Linked DNA regions of Homo sapiens: region 2 is linked to region 1. Evidence: fine-mapped expression QTL. Tissue or cell type: whole blood. Region 1 holds a variant in brackets; the other region holds the start of a gene. All regions are shown on one strand. Distances are between the middles of the regions.

Region 1 (4,353 bases):
TGTTCTAAATTCCAGGGTGCTGCTCTGCCTTCTCTCTCTCTCTCTCTCATTTTTTTCCCTGTCTACCCAAGATATCTTAAAACAAAACAACAATACAAGATAACAAAACCAGATATTCCTCAGTTTCCGGCCAATTTAGCTTCCACATTGGTTTTCATTGCTAAAATGAAACCAGACAGTACACTTCTCTTTCCTTCTTTTGAATTCAAATTCAAATTCCTCCTGTTATGTCTGTGTATGTGGGTATAGGCATGTGTATCTTTTAAGCAAAAGTATTTAGCACATATAATATGCAAGGTACTATTCTGAGTGTTTTTACATGTGCATTTTTTTCACAAATTCAGTGTTACTAATGTTATAAAATTAGGAAGCAAATTAGGATTTGAATGCTAGACTTTTGGCACAAGACATGAGGCTCTTAACTTATCCTCTACTCCTTCTCTCTAATATCTTCTAATAGAACTGCTACCTAATTTTCAGGGCCCAGCACTAAATAAAAGTGTAGGTGCCCGTATTAGTCTGTTTTCACACTTCTGATGAAGACATACCCGAGACTGGGCAATTTACAAAAGAAAGAAGTTTAATACACTCACAGTTCCGCATGGCTGGGGAGGCCTCACAATCATGACAGAAGGTGAAAGGCATGTCTCACATGCGGCAGATAAGAGAATAGAGCTCATGCGGGGAAACTTCCCTTTTTAAAACCACCAGATCTCATGAGATTCATTCACTATCAGGAGAACAGCCCAGGAGAGACCTGCCACCATAATTCAATCACCTCCCCCTGGGTTCCTCCCACAAAATGTGGGAATTGTGGAAGTTACATTTCAAGATGAAATTTGGGTGGGGACACAGTCAAACCATATCAGCACCCTTGCTCAAAAATGATTAAGATTTCCAAGATGGCAACAGTGGAGCATTAAAGTAAGCACAGAGGCTTTCTGAGTGTGGGTCCTTGGGCACAGGTGGCATGCCAAGAAGCCAGCTGTTTCTTCAAACATTCCTTTCTAATTGTACATTTTGTTTGTATGTGTGTGGCTACAGTGGAAGTCAGGGAATTATTACACCTAAGACAGGATGAGTTTCTCTGTAATTTGGTTCATTCAGGCAGCAGGGCATGGGCAGATAAAGCTGTCCCTGAGGAGGAGGGGTATAGTCTGACCAGGAGAACACAGTGCCCAAGGGCACTGAGAACAAAGCTCAGATCAGCAGTATCTGATATGGAAGATAATGTCAAGGTTGTCAAAGAAGAGCATGGCAATGGGCTATCTAAGGGGAAATTAATACATGGGCTCTATGCCCTGGCTGCGTTTTTTTTTATGGGAGTCGTAGGAGGTTGAATGAGATGGCACGATAAAATTAATTCTGGAAAGTATCAGTCAAGATGGGCTCAATTACACTGCAGAAACAAACATGCCTATAATATCAGTGACTTTGGACAATAGAAATTTATTTGTTGTTCACATTGCCTTTCCATCATGAATCTCACAGAGCAAGTGGCCGGGTGAGGGAGTTCTCTGCTCAATATAGTTTCTGAGGGATCTAGGCTGATGGAACAACATACGCTGTTTTGAAATTTTTTGATCATGGATCAGAGAGAAAGAAGTATTCTATAGGGCTCAATTCACAACGGGTTAGTCAGAAATAGTCACATGGCCCCATTCAGTGACAAGGCTGTGCCATTCTACCATGTTCCCAGGAGTTATGAGAACTGGAATGAATTAAATATTCACACGAGGAGACAAGTACAAGAATGCGTATAGGAGTATTGATTGTAAAAGGAAAAAAGAAACAATCCCAGTATCCATGGCCA[A/G]ATACTGTTTGCCCAACAGATGGCTAACAGGCATCTCCAAATTAAACCTGCTAGAACAATCTATGTTTTTTTCTTCTCCAATTCTTACCTTCCCCAACTCAGTGAATAATGCCTTTTCAGTTGATGAGTCCAAAAACTTGAGAGTGAATCTCACACCTCATGTTAGAAGATAGATTCTTTTACCTTCAAAATGCATACAGAACCTGACCACCTCTCACAACTTATCTCTGTGGCCCTAGTGTAAGGCAGGTCTCTAATGAGGTTGCACCCTCATCCTCAAGTGTATTAGTCTGTTCTCAAGCTGCCAATAAAGACGCACCCGAGACTGGGTAATTTATAAAGGAAAGAGGTTTAATGGATTCAGCATTCAGCATGGCTGAGAAGGCCTCAGGAAACTTATAATCATGGTGGAAGGGGAAGAAAATACGTCCTTCTTCACATGGCACCAGCAAGGAGAAGTGCCAAGCAAAAGAGGGAAGCCCCTTTAAAAACCAACAGATCTCGTGAGAACTCACTCACTATCACGAGAACAGCATGAGGATAACCAGCCCCATGATTCAAGTATCTCCCACCAAGTCTTTCCCAGGACACATGAGGATTGTGGGAACTACAGTTCAGGATGAGATTTGGGTGGGGACACAGCCAAATCATATAATCAAGTATTTGTATATAGGCCACTTTCCCATCTGGGTGTTTCCTGGCCTCATGCCAATTGCAGTCTGCTCCCTGACCATGCCCTCCCCGCCCTCTTTCGTGCAATTTAACAGCACTAACAGGCTGAATGAAACTTCCCTTATGATTTTTTCTTTTGACTTGGCTTCAGGCCTCCTGGTTTTTACTCTCTTAATTGTAATTTCTTTTTAGTCTTCCTTGCTTGTTCCTCCTCATCTCATGGACTCCTGAATGTTGACATTCAGAATCCATTCTTTCACTGTCTTCTCTGCTCTTTGGTCTTATACCCCTGGTGATCTCATACAGGGTTTCTAGTCCTAACTTCGTAGACAGCATCTCCGTTTCGGTGTTCACCTTTCAACTAGAATTTAATATGTTCAAAATTGAACTCCCTTCCTGCCCACTCTGAAGCTGCTTCTTCTAGTCTTCCTCATCCTGTTAGGGGATATTCATCATCATTCATGTTGCTCTGGCTAAAACTTGGGAGTGATCCTTCATGCCTCTCTTTTTATCTTCCCGCTCCCATGTTTAGAGAATAAACAAATATTGTGGGTTACACTTTTAAAGATATACAGAATATGACCTTTTTCAATATTCTCAGTGTCAACATCTGTGTTCGATTATTAGACCTGCCATAACAAAGTGTCACAAACTGGGTGGTTGAAAACAAGTACTTCTCACTGTTCTGGAAGGTAGAAGTCTGAGGCCAAGGTATCGGGAGGTCTTTGCTTACTCAGAAAGATCTAGGTGAGAATCTTTCCTTGCCTCTTTTAGCATTTGGTTGTTGCCAGCAATCCTTGGTGTTTCTTGGCTGGTAAAAGCACCTCTCTCATCTCTGCCTTAATACTCACATGGCCTTCTCCCTGTGTGCATGTCTCTGTTTCTTCTCCTCCTGTTATGAAAACAACAGACATTAGATTTAGGGGCCCACCCTACTCCAGTATGACTTCACTTAAGTTACATCTTAACTACATCTGCAAAGGCCTTATTTCCAAATAAGGTCACCTTTACAGGTACCAGGAGTTGGGACTTGAGCAAATATTTGGGGAAAATGTAGAAGTGGTAATAATCATCCAGTGATAATTATCTTTTCCTGGTTGCAAATTTTATTAGATTTAAAAAGTTTTATTCATTCCCGCTTTGTTGAAAGTGTTTACCGTAAGTAAATATTAAATTGTACTTTTTGCCTCCTGGATCTGCTGAAGTGATCATGTGATATTATCCTTGAATATTTCATTCAACACAGAACACACAATTCGGCCACTCTAGTCAAAGCTACCATGATTCCTTGCCTGGATTATGGCTACAGACCCCTGTTAGTCTCCTGCTTTCACCCATTCTCCCGTGTAGACTAAACAGTACAGAATCCAAAGTGGTTCTTTTACAAGTAAGTCAGATCACATCACTTCTCTGCTCAGAAATTTCTAGGGTTTCTTTTCTCACTCAGACTAAAAGCAATTCCCTCCCAATGCACAGCAAGTTCTTGCAGGCTCAGTGCCCTCCCCTCCTTAACTCTCTAGCTTCATCTTCTACTTTCTCCATGGATCACTGCTGTCCAGGCATCCTGGGACCACTGTGCTCCACAAACACACTGAAGGGATTTTGCTTTCCATTTCCTCTCTCTCAAATACTCTTCCCCATAAATCTTACTGTATTAGTCCGTTTTCATGCTGCTGATAAAGACATACGCAAGACTGGGCAATTTACAAAAGAAAGGGTTTTAATTAGACTTACAGTTCCACATGGCTGAGGAAGCCTCACAATCATGGCAGAAGGCAAAGAGGAGCAAGTTACGTCTTACATGGATGGCAGCAGGCAAAGAGAGAGAGAGTGTGTGCAGAGGAACTCCTCTTTTTAAAATAATCAGG
Region 2 (4,169 bases), 44 kb after region 1:
GCAAAACTGTTAAAATATTTACATCAAAATTTTGATCAATTATCAATATGTCTAATTAGGAAGAGCTTATCCAAAATTATAAAAACATGGGACAGACAAGTGGAGACAGTTATAAATAAAAATTAGCAAAAGATAAAATTATAAATAATCAAAATATGCAGAAAGTTTATTCATATTAGTAAACAAGCAACACATCAAAATAAATGTGAGATATTGTTTTACAACTACTAAACTAGTCAAAATACACTTTAAAAATAACATGCAAGCAAGAATGTGGAGAACCGGTACACCACATTTTTGATTGCATGTATAACTCATTTTGAAAACAATATGGCAGTCGGAAGCAAGGGTGATGAAGATGTTTCTTCTCCCTAGCTCAGATATTCCACTATATGAATTTTATATTGAATATATAATTTCACAGAAATAAAAGAGTTCTGTGCAAAACTTTTGCATGTTGTATTATAGCAAAGAGAATGGAAATAACCATTTAAAACAATTGTTAGATAAATTAATACAGATATATGAAAAATACTTAGAAATAGGAAAAATCCTTATTGTATAAGTCAAAACAAAAAATATTATAGTATATATTCCGTATTATTTTCAATTATGTAGGAAATATAGACTATAAAATGCAGACGATAAAAATAATTGATGTGTTAAAATAATAAAAATGTGCATGTTTCCTAATTTAAAAATGTTTAAGCCCAGTTATTCCTGATAACTAGTATAAAGATACAATAACCAGATACCAAAAATTATGGTTTTATAAAATAAGAAACAATTTTTTATGAATAAAGCATATAGTCAAAAAATAAGTTTATAGTCAGGGTACCTCATGCGTGTGTGTGTGTGTGTGTGTGTGTGTGTGTGTGTGTGTGTGTGTGATAGAAGGGTCCCTGGTCTATCTCTCACTACATTTCTTATGCAATTCTCTTCAGAAGTGAAAATATACATAAATTATTGCATGTATTCTGTGGACTTCATAGCGTCACTGTGAAGGTTAAACGAAATAGTATGTTTGAAAATGCCTATTCTGGTCTATAGCTGTACGATACGTTCCAGGTGCTCAAAAAATATTCTTTCAATATATTTAATAAAAGGACAATAATATTAAGAATTTGTTATATTATAACTTTAATAAATGTATACAAAGATTCTTTTTTTCACCTTCAAATGAAAGAACTAGAATCGATCATTTTGGTAGGCCCCACCAACTCTGTAAAGTTCCGTGGAATGAGCAGAACATGAAGAAAGTCAGAAATCAGTAAAGGACGATTATAAGAAGACGATAAATGCATGGATCCCCTGGAAAAGCGTACCTTAAAGAGAAGCTTTAAAATCTGTGTGTGTGTCTGTGCGTGTGTGTGTGTGTGTGTGTAAAATAACCTTTTTAACAAATAAACAAAATTAAAGTACAACATACAGGGCCTTTCATTACAACCTTCACCTGGTTTCACAACATGTAATGTACATTCAGAAAACAGATGTCTTTAACTTTCTATGACCCAGGTAGTAAGCAAAGTCTAATTCTAACATGTAATGCTTTTTTTTATTTTTCTGGAGTGATGAATAATGCTTCTCACATGGGAGGGCATTATCTACCTGAGGAAACACATATGGCCCTTTTATCTCCTCTATGCTTAATGCACAGATAAATACTTACACACGCACAGAGAAATGCTTCCAGTCACACGATCTGCTCATTGGAGGAAAAAGCACACCCATGCAGCCTGTTACATTTGCCAGCGCTGGGGCTTTGCTCTAAAGCAATGTCTGCTTTGGATGGCAAATTTCATAGTCTCTATTTAATAGGTTCATAGAGGGGATACTCACCTCCAGCTCCCCCAGACTGGATGTTATTCTCTAATCCCTGACTCCTAAAAGTGTCTGTGCCCAAAACATACCTGTTTCTTCTGGACCCTGAACGGCACGCTTATTTCTGCTGTTCTGACTGGAGTTGCCTTCTCCTGGAGCTGGTGGTTCAAAGATCTATGAACAGAAAAACTTCAAGTTATTAGAAAGACAGCTGAGGCGAGGGAGAGGCAGCAGTGTAGGCAGGATCTTGCCTGCGTCTTGCAGCTGCTGCAAACTCACTTTCAGTCCCGCGGTGACAGCTGGAGCTTCCTCCAGGCCGGCCTTGGGGGCTCCTGCTCCTGCTGGCAGCTTCTCCGCGTGGTGGCCCTGCAGCTCTGCCCGGAGGCTGGCCAGGTCCCCTTGCAGGGCGGCCACCTGGTAGAAAGACACCACCGTGAGGCAGCAAGACAGCAGTGCCAGCAGCAAGGTTGCAGCCAGCAGCTTTCCGTCTTTGGAGGATCGGACAGAGGGGCTTTCCTTCCGTGGGAGGATGGAAACACACTCCTTCAGTTTCATTTCTTCTCTTTTCTTAAGGCAAGAAGTAAGGCGTGACTGCTCCCTTTCTGTGGAGTCATCCATATCACTACTTGAACTTTGAAGGTTGGGGCCTTTAGAATAAGTGACCACAGGGAATGGATCATTTCCTGTTATCTGTGTTTGTTGATGTCCTGCGTGCACTACATGGCAGGGCTTGGCTCACCCCTCAGGAGAGTTATCCTGAATTTTCTCCTTTCTGCCTTTCTGCATCTCTACCCCTACTGTACAGTAGGTTTGCTGGCATTTACCCTCCGATTGGATTGCTCAATCTGTCTTCCTCATTTCACTTTCAGTTTTTGTAAGAATTTCAAAGTCTTCTCATAACACTCATGCTCAAGTAGATTTAAAACCCCTTAAATCTGCTGAGGAAACTTGGAGTTTGGATTGGCACAGTCAAGGGAAAGCTTTTAAGATATGCTCAGGTCTGAGAAGCCCACCCTTAAGTGTAGCAAGGGAACTCTGTCTGCTTGGGACCACATGGCTTCATAAGGAAGGGGGAAAAGCAGCTGAAAGTTCCTGCTGCTGTCATAAAAATAATTAATGTGAAGGTCAGATAAGCTAAGTGTTTTAGCATTGAATTGTTCTTAGCTAGAGAGTGATTTATTAACAGTCTTCAATTATGAAATAAAATGGAGAATCCTTGAAGGAAGTGTGGAAGTAAGTCCACTGGGAATTATTCATATTATTATACTAATAATGTCATAAAAAGAATGAGAGTAAATGTTACAGACGTATTTAGGTTAGATATCTGAAGGATTCTCTAAATATAAGTGAATATATTTTTAAGGAAAACATGCATAAACTTTTTCCTTCTGGGACTCATCACTGAAACTCAATCATGCATATGAACAGCCTGTCCCAAGGAGCCTGGTCTCAGCTTTTCTGCTCAGACTTCTGAGGCTTTAAGTCCCCGCTCAATATGATACTAGTTGAGGAGAATCAGCCTTGCCTCCAGCTCCAAATGCCTGACTGCTACCATTAACCACTCTCAAGTAGCTTGTCTACAACTCCCATGTTGACTGTGCCACAGCCTAACAGGTCGGTGTACAAGAGGTCCTTGATCACACAAGAGCCACCTTAGCTTTGGATTTTTCTGTTGTTGACTTGGTGGACCTGTGAGGACTGTTGCATTCATTCTAGTCCTGCCTTATCCTGATGGCTGGTTCCTGGACATTCCCCAGTTTTTCACTGCTTTGCCCCAGCATTGAAATATTGATTCATCTTTCAACAAACGTTACTGAGCACTTACCAAGCCCTGGGTAGTCACTACTCCCCTGTGGACTAAGAATAGTGAGCTTTAGTTCTGTCTCACTCTACATTTCCACACAGTCTTAAGTAAGAAGTTTACAGAAATGATATAGTGCAAAGTGGAGAACTCCAGACCCAGGCTTCTAGACTGCAAATCCTGCCTCACCCTCGCTCTCCTTATGCAAAGTACATAATCTCTCTGTGATTCCATTTCCTCACCTGTGAATTCGTATGACGATATTAACTGTCCCTGGGATACATAATGAGGCTTACAAGAATGTGGAAACAAATTACATTTTGGATGCTTCCATTTAAAAAAAAATTATTTCCACAGGTTTTTGGGGAATAGGTGGTATTTGATTACATGGTTAAGTTATTTAGTGGTGATTTGTGAGATTTTGGTGCACCCATCACCCGAGCAGTGTACACATTGAACCCATTTTTTAGTCTTTTATTCCTCACCCCCCTCCCACCCTTTCCCCTGAGTCCCTAAAGTCCATTAGATCATTCCTATGTCTTTGCAT

The links. PIP is the estimated chance that this variant, and not a neighbour inherited with it, causes the effect.
Region 2: it holds the start of TNFSF13B, and the variant in region 1 is fine-mapped to the expression of TNFSF13B in whole blood (INTERVAL, PIP above 0.99).

Annotation. Positions count from the first base shown.
Region 1 is chr13:108,311,754-108,316,106 of GRCh38, reverse strand. No RefSeq gene overlaps it. Among named protein-coding and RNA genes, the nearest start is that of TNFSF13B, 44 kb to the right of the region's middle. The variant A/G (reference allele first, on the strand shown) is at 1,814.
Region 2 is chr13:108,268,166-108,272,334 of GRCh38, reverse strand. TNFSF13B (TNF superfamily member 13b) reads right to left here and starts at 2,617. Exons shown (of 6, transcript NM_006573.5): 1 at 2,101-2,617; 2 at 1,911-1,995. The coding sequence starts at 2,439. RefSeq lists a silencer at 1,712-1,791 and enhancers at 1,692-2,200, 2,152-2,581.